2 separate regions of the Homo sapiens genome follow, and region 1 is linked to region 2. Evidence: fine-mapped expression QTL. Tissue or cell type: sun-exposed skin. Region 2 holds a variant in brackets; the other region holds the start of a gene. All regions are shown on one strand. Distances are from middle to middle.

Region 1 (4,394 bases), 23 kb before region 2:
AGGGCAGAGACGTTTCAGGGACAAGATTAAAAACAAATTATACTTATTCGAGGCTGGGTATGGTGGCTCATGCCTGTAATCACATCACTTTGGGAGGCTGAGGAGGAGGATCGCTTGAACCCAGGAGTTCGAGATGAGCCTGGGCAACCTAGCATGATCCTGTCTCTACAAAAAAAAAAAAAAAAGAAAAAAAGAAAAAAAAAATTAGCCAGGTGTGGTGGTATATGCCTGTGGTCCCAGCTACTCGGGAGGCTGAGACAGGAGGATTGCTTGAACCCAGGAGGTAGAGGCTGTGGTGAGCCATAATCATGCCACTGTACTCCAGCCTGGGACACAACAAGACTCTATCTTTACAAAATAAATAAATAAATAAAATTTAAAAATTATACTTCTTTGGCTGGGTGTGGTGGCTCATGCCTGTAATCCCAGCACTTTGGGAGGCCGAGGCAGGTGGGTTATGAGGTCAAGAGATCAAGACCATCCTGGCCAACATGGTGAAATGCTGCCTCTACTAAAAATACAAAAATTAGCTGGGCTTGGTGGCACGTGCCTGTACTCCCAGCTACTCGGGAGGCTGAGGTGGGAGATGGCGTGAACCTGGGTGGCGGATGTTGCAGTGAGCCAAGATTGCGCCACTGTACTCCAGCCTGGTGACAGAGTGAGACTCTCTCTCAAAAAAAAAAAAAAAAAAAAAAAAAGACATTATACTTCTTTAAATCAATGTGTTTTAAAGTTTATCACTGGAATTACTTTCAGAAAATTAATTGGTAAGAGTTTTCTAAATGTTCCCAAAGCACAGCAAAGGTCCGTGGTTTACAGCACACACTAGGCTACATCAATGGGAAAATTGGATAAAAAGACAGGGCTAACCTCACCAAAGAGCAAGGAAAACCAGCAAAGTTTTCTGGTAAAACACAGGCAGGAAGTTTCTCCAAATACTGCTTTACTCGCACTTTTAAAAGGCTTTCCTCCCTTCCCCCCAACTTCTAAAATAGTTTCAGGATAACAAATTTGTAACAGCTGGTCATCAAATTCATGCGCACTCCCAAAAGGACGACAGCCCTAAGACTGACTATAAATAATACATCCATCTGGCTCTTGTAGGAGTATTGGATTGACTTGTTGCCCATCACAGTGTCTCCCTTCTGCCACCCCACAATGACAGGGTGAAGCTAGACAGCCTCACTGAATGGTATATGGTTACAGTTGAGGCACTGCATTGTGGGTACCCCACATTTCTGAGATAAAGTTAGCTGATAGAATTACCAGAGCATAATCAAATGCAGTCATTACAGAGGGAGCCTATATCATGTTACCTTTGAAAATATTTTAATCTAGAAACATCATACACTGTATACAAAATTCATGAATCCCTGACGCCTGGGCGTGGCCTTGGACATATTATTCTGAGCCATCTCCTATTTTCTTTCATATGTAAATGTTATTCTTGAGCTAGGAATAGGAGAGAAAGAGAAAATTGAAACAGCCAGACCAAGTGTTTTTGAATGCTCTTAAAAGACAAAAAAAAAAAAAAAGACAAAAGTTTGTATCACATCAGAAGTTCCCTACGTGCTCTTCAAAGCTGATTGCTTGCAGTTAAAAGAACCCAGAAGAAGCAGGCACGCCATGATTTTGAAGCTCCGTTTTTGTTCTGTTATTCAACTGCAGTCAACTTCCAACTGTTGAAAAAAAGATGATTTAGAATTAAAGGGTTGCTTGTCTGTGTCGCAAGGCCCTTCAACTTGTTCACCTGTGATATCCAGAGACTCCAAGATGTTGGTGAGTTTCTATTGCAATTGCCATATTGCCATGGTTTTGCCCTTTGTGTTGACTGTAGCATTGTGCTGTTTGAAGACAGAGCAGCATACTGCTTTGTGTAGTAAAAATTGATGGATAATGTACTTAAAGCTTTTAGATGTACACTATTCACATTCTAAATGACAGATACAAAAAGGAATAATCAGAATTTAGATTGTTGAATCATTGCCTCCAACAGCCAACTCTTACCGTGACAAAGTCAGTAGGGCTGATCTTAGAAGTGTAGGACTTGTGAGTGTTACGTGGTTGTACTAACTGGTACCTTAGTGGAGGGGCAGATAAGGTAAGTAGAAACAATGCCTGCTTTCTCCTCCATGTCTGGGTCCTACACATAGTCCCCAGTTTGCCTGGTTTGTAGAGGTTTAAACACAGAACAGAGGGTGTTGGGAATGAGACAAAGAGATTGTCACAGGAACATGGACCCACGGTTTTCCTTTGGTGATGAAAACAATCCTGTCAATATGGAAAACTGTGTTATCACAAAATGGGCTTAGCGAATAGAAGAAATGTCACCTACCAGCCGGAAACAACAATTCGCTGACCATCTTTGGCCTCTTGCCACTAAGGAGTTTTGGTTTTCCCATCTGTAGAAATTCTTAATTGAGTCCATCAGATTCCCAGTCATCCTAGCCATGGTTACCTTCTTCTCTAAGTTGGCAGGTTAGTGAGCTTAGGCTAGCACTTCAGCATCAAATTTAGACTTCATAATAAAGTAAATCACACAGGGAATAGCTGTCAGCATGGTGACCACCTTGTTGTCCATTCCTACTCAGGGACTGGCCTGAAGTGTTTTCACAGCCTGGGTCACTGTGATGTCCTGGCCCTGTTTGCTCAAAGTGTTCATCTCAGAGTGACTTGTGAGGTATTGCTGAGCACATAATGGTCAAGATAGCTGCATAAGCAGGCGTGGCCCCAAATGTAGTCACCTGACTTCAGAAAATCAATTTGGATTCTACAGAAAGGTTCTGTTGGATTCTGAGTGGAACCTCTTTGGATATGCCTTTGGATTTCAAGATTGAGCCAAGTGTTGACATGGGAAGATGCTCCAGTTCCTCCAGTTATCTCAAAGAAGCTCATTACCTTGCTAAGGGTATGGATTGTCCTTTTCCAGAAAAAATCCTCTTGATATTTTGCATGCACACATGCAAAAAATAATAACAACAGAAGCTGTTTTCCTGTATGTAATGAGAGTGTTCCTCAGGTTTCTGGTTTATCTTAATGGTATCTCACTCCTTTTCTTTTCCTTTCTTTCTTTCTTTGTCTGTGTGTGTGTTTGTGTGTGTGTGTTTATGTGTGTGTGAGAGAGAGAGAGAGAGACAGGGTCTTGCTCTGTCACCCAGGCTGGAGTGCAGTGGCATGATCTCTGCTCACTGCAGCCTTGACCTCCTGGGCTCAACTGATCCTCCATCTCAGCCTCCCAAGTTGCTGGGACTACAGGCATATACCACCACTGCTGGCTAATTTTTAATTTTTTTTTTCTTTGTAGAGACAGGGTCTTGCTTTGTTGCCCAAGCTGTTCTCAAACTCCTGTCCTCAAGGAATCCTTCTGTTTTGGCATCCCAAAGTGCTGAGATTACAGGCATGAGCCACTGTGCCTGGACTTTTTTTCTTTTTCTTGAGAGCCAGAGCAAAATTCAAATTTTATCAGTTTTAATTAATTATATTTTAAAAGTGGGAATTTGGCCAACAAAGTATCTTTCCTTTCTATACAAGAAGGGTATGGCGTTTGGCAATGAGCTCCTGAAAATGTAAAGAAAGCATGAGGATAACTTTGGGACTGATACTTGGGTCATTAAAAGTCTTGCAAAACTAGAATTTGTTTTCTTCTTCTTCCATTCTCTCTGTAGGCATTTAAACATACTCTCAGGCCAGGCACAGTGGCTCATGTCTGTAATCCCAGCACTTTGGGAGGCTGAGGCAGGTGGATTACTTGTGCTCAGGAGTTCGAGACCGTCCTGAATAACATGGTGAAACTCCATCTCTAAAAAAAAAATTAAAAATTAGTCAGGTGTGGTGGTGTGCGCCTGTAGTCCCAGCTACTCAGGAGGCTAAGGGAGGAAGATCAGTTGAGCCATGGTGTTGTCACTACACTCCAGCCTGGGTGATAGAGTGAGACCTTGTCTAAAAAAAAAAAAAAAAAGATACTCTGTTTTTTTTTGTTCTAAAAAATTAGACAATATTTTGTTTAAACTTGCTTAGTGATTTATTTATTTATTTATTATTTTTTATTTTTTTGAGACAGAGTCTTGCTGTTGCTCAGGCTGGAGTACAGCGGCATGATCTCGGCTCACTGCAACCTCTGCCTCCCGGGTTCAAGTGATTCTCCTGCCTCAGCCTCCCAAGTAGCTGGGACTATAGGGATGCACCACCATGCCCAACTAATTTTTGTATTTTTAGTAGAAATGGGTTTTGCCACATTGGCCAGGCTGGTCTTGAACTACTGAGCTCAAGTGATCCACCTGCCTCAGCCTCCCAAAGTGCTGGGATTACAGGCATGAGCCACCTCATCCAGCCTGATTTTTTTTTTTACCTTCAAATATATTTATTTACAGATTGAGTTTTAAAATTGTCTTAAA
Region 2 (4,394 bases):
ACAATGCTGTTTAAATCCATTAAACCACCGAAGAGCTATTTCTTCCAAATTAATAAGAAAATTTTTGTAGATCATGCCTGGAAGAAATAATTTTTTTTCTTCATAGTTTTGTACTCACCAGGCTGGAGTGTGGTAGCACGATCTCAGCTCACTGCAACCTTTGTCTCCCGGGCTCAAGTGATTCTCCTCCCTCAGCCTCCCAAGCAGCTGAGATTACAGGTGCATGCCACCACTGCCTGGCTAATTTTTTATATTTTTGGTAGAGATGGGGTTTCACCATGTTGGCCAGGCTGGTCTCAAACTCCTGACCTCAAGTGATCCGCCCGCTTGGCCTTCCAAAGTGTTGGGATTACAGGCATGAGCCACCTGAAAATAAAGAATAGCACACTCAGTGAAATAATTATTTCCCATGAATCCACTTCTGCATTTTCCTTCTCTCAAGTTAAATTCTTTTGGATTTCTACTTATGCAAGATTGGGAATTCAAATTAACCACCACTGTCTTTCTATACTTTTTGCCTTTGTAGCCTCAACTATCAGAACATTCAGACTAAAATCAAAATTCTGAGAAACAGAATCATTTAAATAAATACCTTAAATTGACTCTTTAGTTTCATACAGTATTTGAAGACACAGCCTGGGGCTGATATTCAAACTTGAATGAGGATTTTGTCAAAGCGAAGGACAAAGTGACAAAGATTATGTCAAGGTTAGCCCTTCCGAAGAAGTGTTTGCCTCCTCAAAGCACTTACTTGCCTGGCAAAATCTCACTCATTCAAGGCCCAGCTCTAGCGTCAGGTCATTTATGCATCCCTAGTCAGCCACCCTCCTCACCCCCAAGCCCCCCAATCCCCCGCACCTGGAGGAATTCTTGGCCCCGGCCTCTGTGTCCCCGCAGCACTGGGTCTCGTTTGTCTCTGTGACTCTGCACTCATCTTTGAATCCTGAATGTCCAGCTGAAAGCCCAGGAGAGTCGATGCTTCATAGAGGAAGCCCTGAGCCACCGTGGATGTAACAGCCCATCTCAAGGCACCCAAGCAGTTTCCAGGCTCACAGCGGCTGCCCTGCTAGTCTTGGACCTGCAGGAGTCACAAGTCTTTGTGAGGCCACCTCAGGGTTGGCCCTGCCCTCTACCTGGCAGCTCCCTGGGGTCTGGATCTGCTCTTCTTTACTTGGTCCCAAGTTTACAGCTACTGTTGTGAAATGATGAGAACTCTCTAAATAACTTTGTGGTAAGTGGTTCTGGAAAGAGTCTAGTGCTGGCATCCTTCATTCACTCAGCAGTATGTATTGCTATAGGCTAGCACTTTTCTAGGTATTGGGGATAAAACATGAACAACAAACAAATCACCTGCCCTCAAGATGCTTACATTTCTGTAAGAGAGACATATACTTAACAAATTAAGCCAGGTGCGGTGGCTCACGCCTGTAATTCCAGCACTTTGGGAGGCTGAGGCAGGCGGATCACGAGGTCAGGAGTTCGAGACCAGCCTGGCCAACATGGTGAAACCCCGTTTCTACTAAAGATACAAAAAATTAGCCGGGCGTGGTGGCGGGCGCCTGTAATCCCAGCTACTTGGGAGGCTGAGGCAGGAGAATCGCTTGAACCCGGGAGGCAGAGGTTGCAGTGAGCCGAGATTGCGCCATTGCACTCCAGTCTGGGTGACAGGGCAAGACTCCATCTCAAAAAAAAAAAAAAATTAAATTAACATATAATTATGAAATGTTAAAAAGCACAGTGCAGAAAATAATAATACATTCTGCGTGACTCTGAAGCCAGACTACCTGGGTTCACATACTGGCTCTGTCACTTATTAGTTTTGTGATCTTAGGAAAGTTATGCAACCTCTCTGTGCCTCAGTTCTCTCTTCTGTAAAATGCAGATAATAATATTTGCCTCACAGGGCTGTTATGATGTTTAAATGAGTTAATATAAGTAACGTACTGAAAATAGGGCCTGGCTCACAGTGAGTACATTACTCCTGGGTGTTAGCTATCATGACTATTAAGTAATGGGATATGACCAAAAGTAACTAAATGCAGAAGGTTTGAATTACTAAGGGAGAAGGTTTTTCAGAGAAGGTGAGATTTGGACTGAGTCTTGGAGGATGAGAAGACAGCTAGGTAAAGAGCTGGGGGAGACAGGGGTGGGGGGACGCCAGGCAGGATGTTATGGTGCCTTAGGGGTGCTGTAGGGATGCTGAACTGATTTTGAGTCACCTCCAGTGGGACTGTGGCTCTAATTCAAGTCTTTCTGTGTGGCTCCCCCAGATTCCCAAGGAGCACCCCGGCCACCCTTCTGGGCCTCGAGGCTCAGGTGGGAGTGAGGTAACAGGGACACCCCAAGGAGGGCCGCAGGAGGCCCCCAACGAGGAGCTCTGTGAGCTGGCCCCGCAGACGTGAGTCCTAGCCCTGGAGCCCCAGCAGACACAGGACACAGAAAGAGGCCCCTTCCTCATGCAGCCTCCAGGAAGGCCCATGAGGCTCCCACAGGAAAAGCAGTCTTGGACCAC[G/A]AGTTACAAAGCCTGGTAGCCTGGCTCCTCACCTGCCCCACCAGCAGGGCCTGGCCAGCCTCTGCAACCCTCTGGGCAGAGATCTGAGGGACGGGACAGCTGGGGCTGGGGGACGCGGGGAGAGGTGAAGGTCAAGTGGCCGCATGAGGCCCATAGCACTCTCTGCCTTAGGTTGCTCGCTCCCACCATCCCAGGGGTGATGCCAAGTGATTCCAAATAGTGGAGCTCCCAGGTAGCTCAAGAACTGATTCTAACATTCAAACTGCTTTTTTTTTTTTTAAATTAGTTACCTAAACGGTCATTATGGAGATGCAGCTGCCCAGAACAAGCCAGACCAAGTGGCCATGAGGCTGTCTTCTAACTCTGGGGTAATGTCCTGCAGCCGGGGCCTGGCTGGGTTCTTCTCATTGTTGGCTCTTTAACTAAAACCAGTGTTGCTGAATGTGACTGTGAAATTGGCATAATCAAGATCACTTACCTCTTCCTAATGGCATCCTGGGTGTCAGTGCTGGTGATGGCTGGTACTGCTGACGGTTTCCCACTTTCTGCACTCCTGAGAATCTCGGCAGGCGTACCTAGACCGGAGCTTCTCCAACTTCTCCGAGCCTATGAATCACCTGCAGATCTTGTTAAAATGCAGGCTCTGAATCAGTAAGTTTGGGGCGAGCCTGCAATTCTGCATTGCTAACAAGCCCCAGGTGATGCCAAAGCTGCTGGTTCTGGTCTGCGGACCACATTTTAAATTCTGAGGGTCTAGAGATTATTTCATTTCGAATGAATTGGAAATGCTGGGATTACCAACCCCGGGGTCTTAAATGATATTATATTATAATATTATAATAAGCAGTAAACAATGATATAATAATTATGTTGGCTCAGAGCTTTACAGTTTGCAAAGACTTTTTGCAGAGGAAGAGTAGTTTAGAAAGGTGATATTTGTTCAGGGTAAATGATAGGTGATGCCCGGGTCTCCAACTCAGGTGGAGGGGCACCTCCCTGCATTCTGCTAATGTAAATCTGCCTTAAATGTCAGTGGAGGAGTAACCCTGTAAGCTCAGCAATGATAAAATATAAAAATTAAAAAAAAAAAACCATGGGAAAAATGGATGAAAAAACCCTTTTTTTTTAAATTATAAAACTGATACATGCTTATTACAAGAGAAATGAGAAAATAAAGAAAAGTATAAAGAAGAAACTTCCACTGAGAGGAAAATCAATCTAATTTTTTTTTTTTGAGACAGTCTCGCTTTGTTGTCCAGGCTGGAGTGCAATGGTGCGATCCCAGCTCACTGCAACCTCTGCCTCCTGGGTTCAAGTGATTCTCCTGCCTCAGCCTCCTGAGTAGCTGGGATTACAGGCATGTGCCACCACGTGCAGCTAATTTTTGTATTTTTAGTAGAGAGGAGGTTTCACCACGTTGCCCACACTGGTCTAGAACTCCCGACCTCAGGTGATCCACCCACCTCAGCCTCCCAAAGTGCTGGGATTACAGGCATGAGCCACTGCGCCTGGCCCATTGCTAATATTTTAGTGTATATCCTTCCAGTCTTTTTTTCTCCTATATATACATTTTGGCCAAAATAGGATTTTACTATATATATTGTTTTATGCTTTTCATTTAATGTTATATTTTGAGCAGCTCTCCACATCACTTAGAATAAACTATCGCTTCATTTTTGATGACTGTACTATATTTCATTATACTAATGTACTCTGACACATTTAGACAATCTCTTATTGATGGAGATTTAGTTTTTTCCAGTTCTTTGATATCATAAACACTGCTTCAGGTAACATCATTTGACATGCAAACATTTGTAGTTGATCATTTCCTTAGAATAAAACCCTAGGATTGCAGTTAATGGTTCAAATGGTACATGCT

Alleles and levels. Positions count from the first base shown, and alleles are read on the strand shown. Sizes are in standard deviations (SD) of each study's normalised expression.
For the expression in sun-exposed skin of the gene that starts at base 2,743 in region 1, G is the high allele of the variant in region 2 and A is the other (moderate effect, 0.64 SD a copy in GTEx).

What was found. PIP is the estimated chance that this variant, and not a neighbour inherited with it, causes the effect.
Region 1: it holds the start of AKNAD1, and the variant in region 2 is the best candidate, but not a certain one, in a credible set for the expression of AKNAD1 in sun-exposed skin (GTEx, PIP 0.83).

The regions. Positions count from the first base shown.
Region 1 is chr1:108,855,443-108,859,836 of GRCh38, reverse strand. It overlaps AKNAD1 (AKNA domain containing 1), which reads left to right and starts at 2,743. Exons shown (of 16, transcript NM_152763.5): 1 at 2,743-2,908. SPATA42 (spermatogenesis associated 42) reads right to left here and starts at 2,620. Exons shown (of 3, transcript NR_034168.1): 1 at 2,336-2,620; 2 at 1,570-1,679; 3 at 1,313-1,452.
Region 2 is chr1:108,832,933-108,837,326 of GRCh38, reverse strand. It overlaps AKNAD1 (AKNA domain containing 1), which reads left to right. Exons shown (of 16, transcript NM_152763.5): 8 at 2,271-2,398; 9 at 2,799-2,880. LOC105378891 (a long non-coding RNA gene) reads right to left here. Exons shown (of 5, transcript XR_947687.3): 3 at 2,991-3,137; 4 at 859-1,078; 5 at 324-366. Among named protein-coding and RNA genes, the nearest start is that of AKNAD1, 22 kb to the left of the region's middle. The variant G/A (reference allele first, on the strand shown) is at 2,513.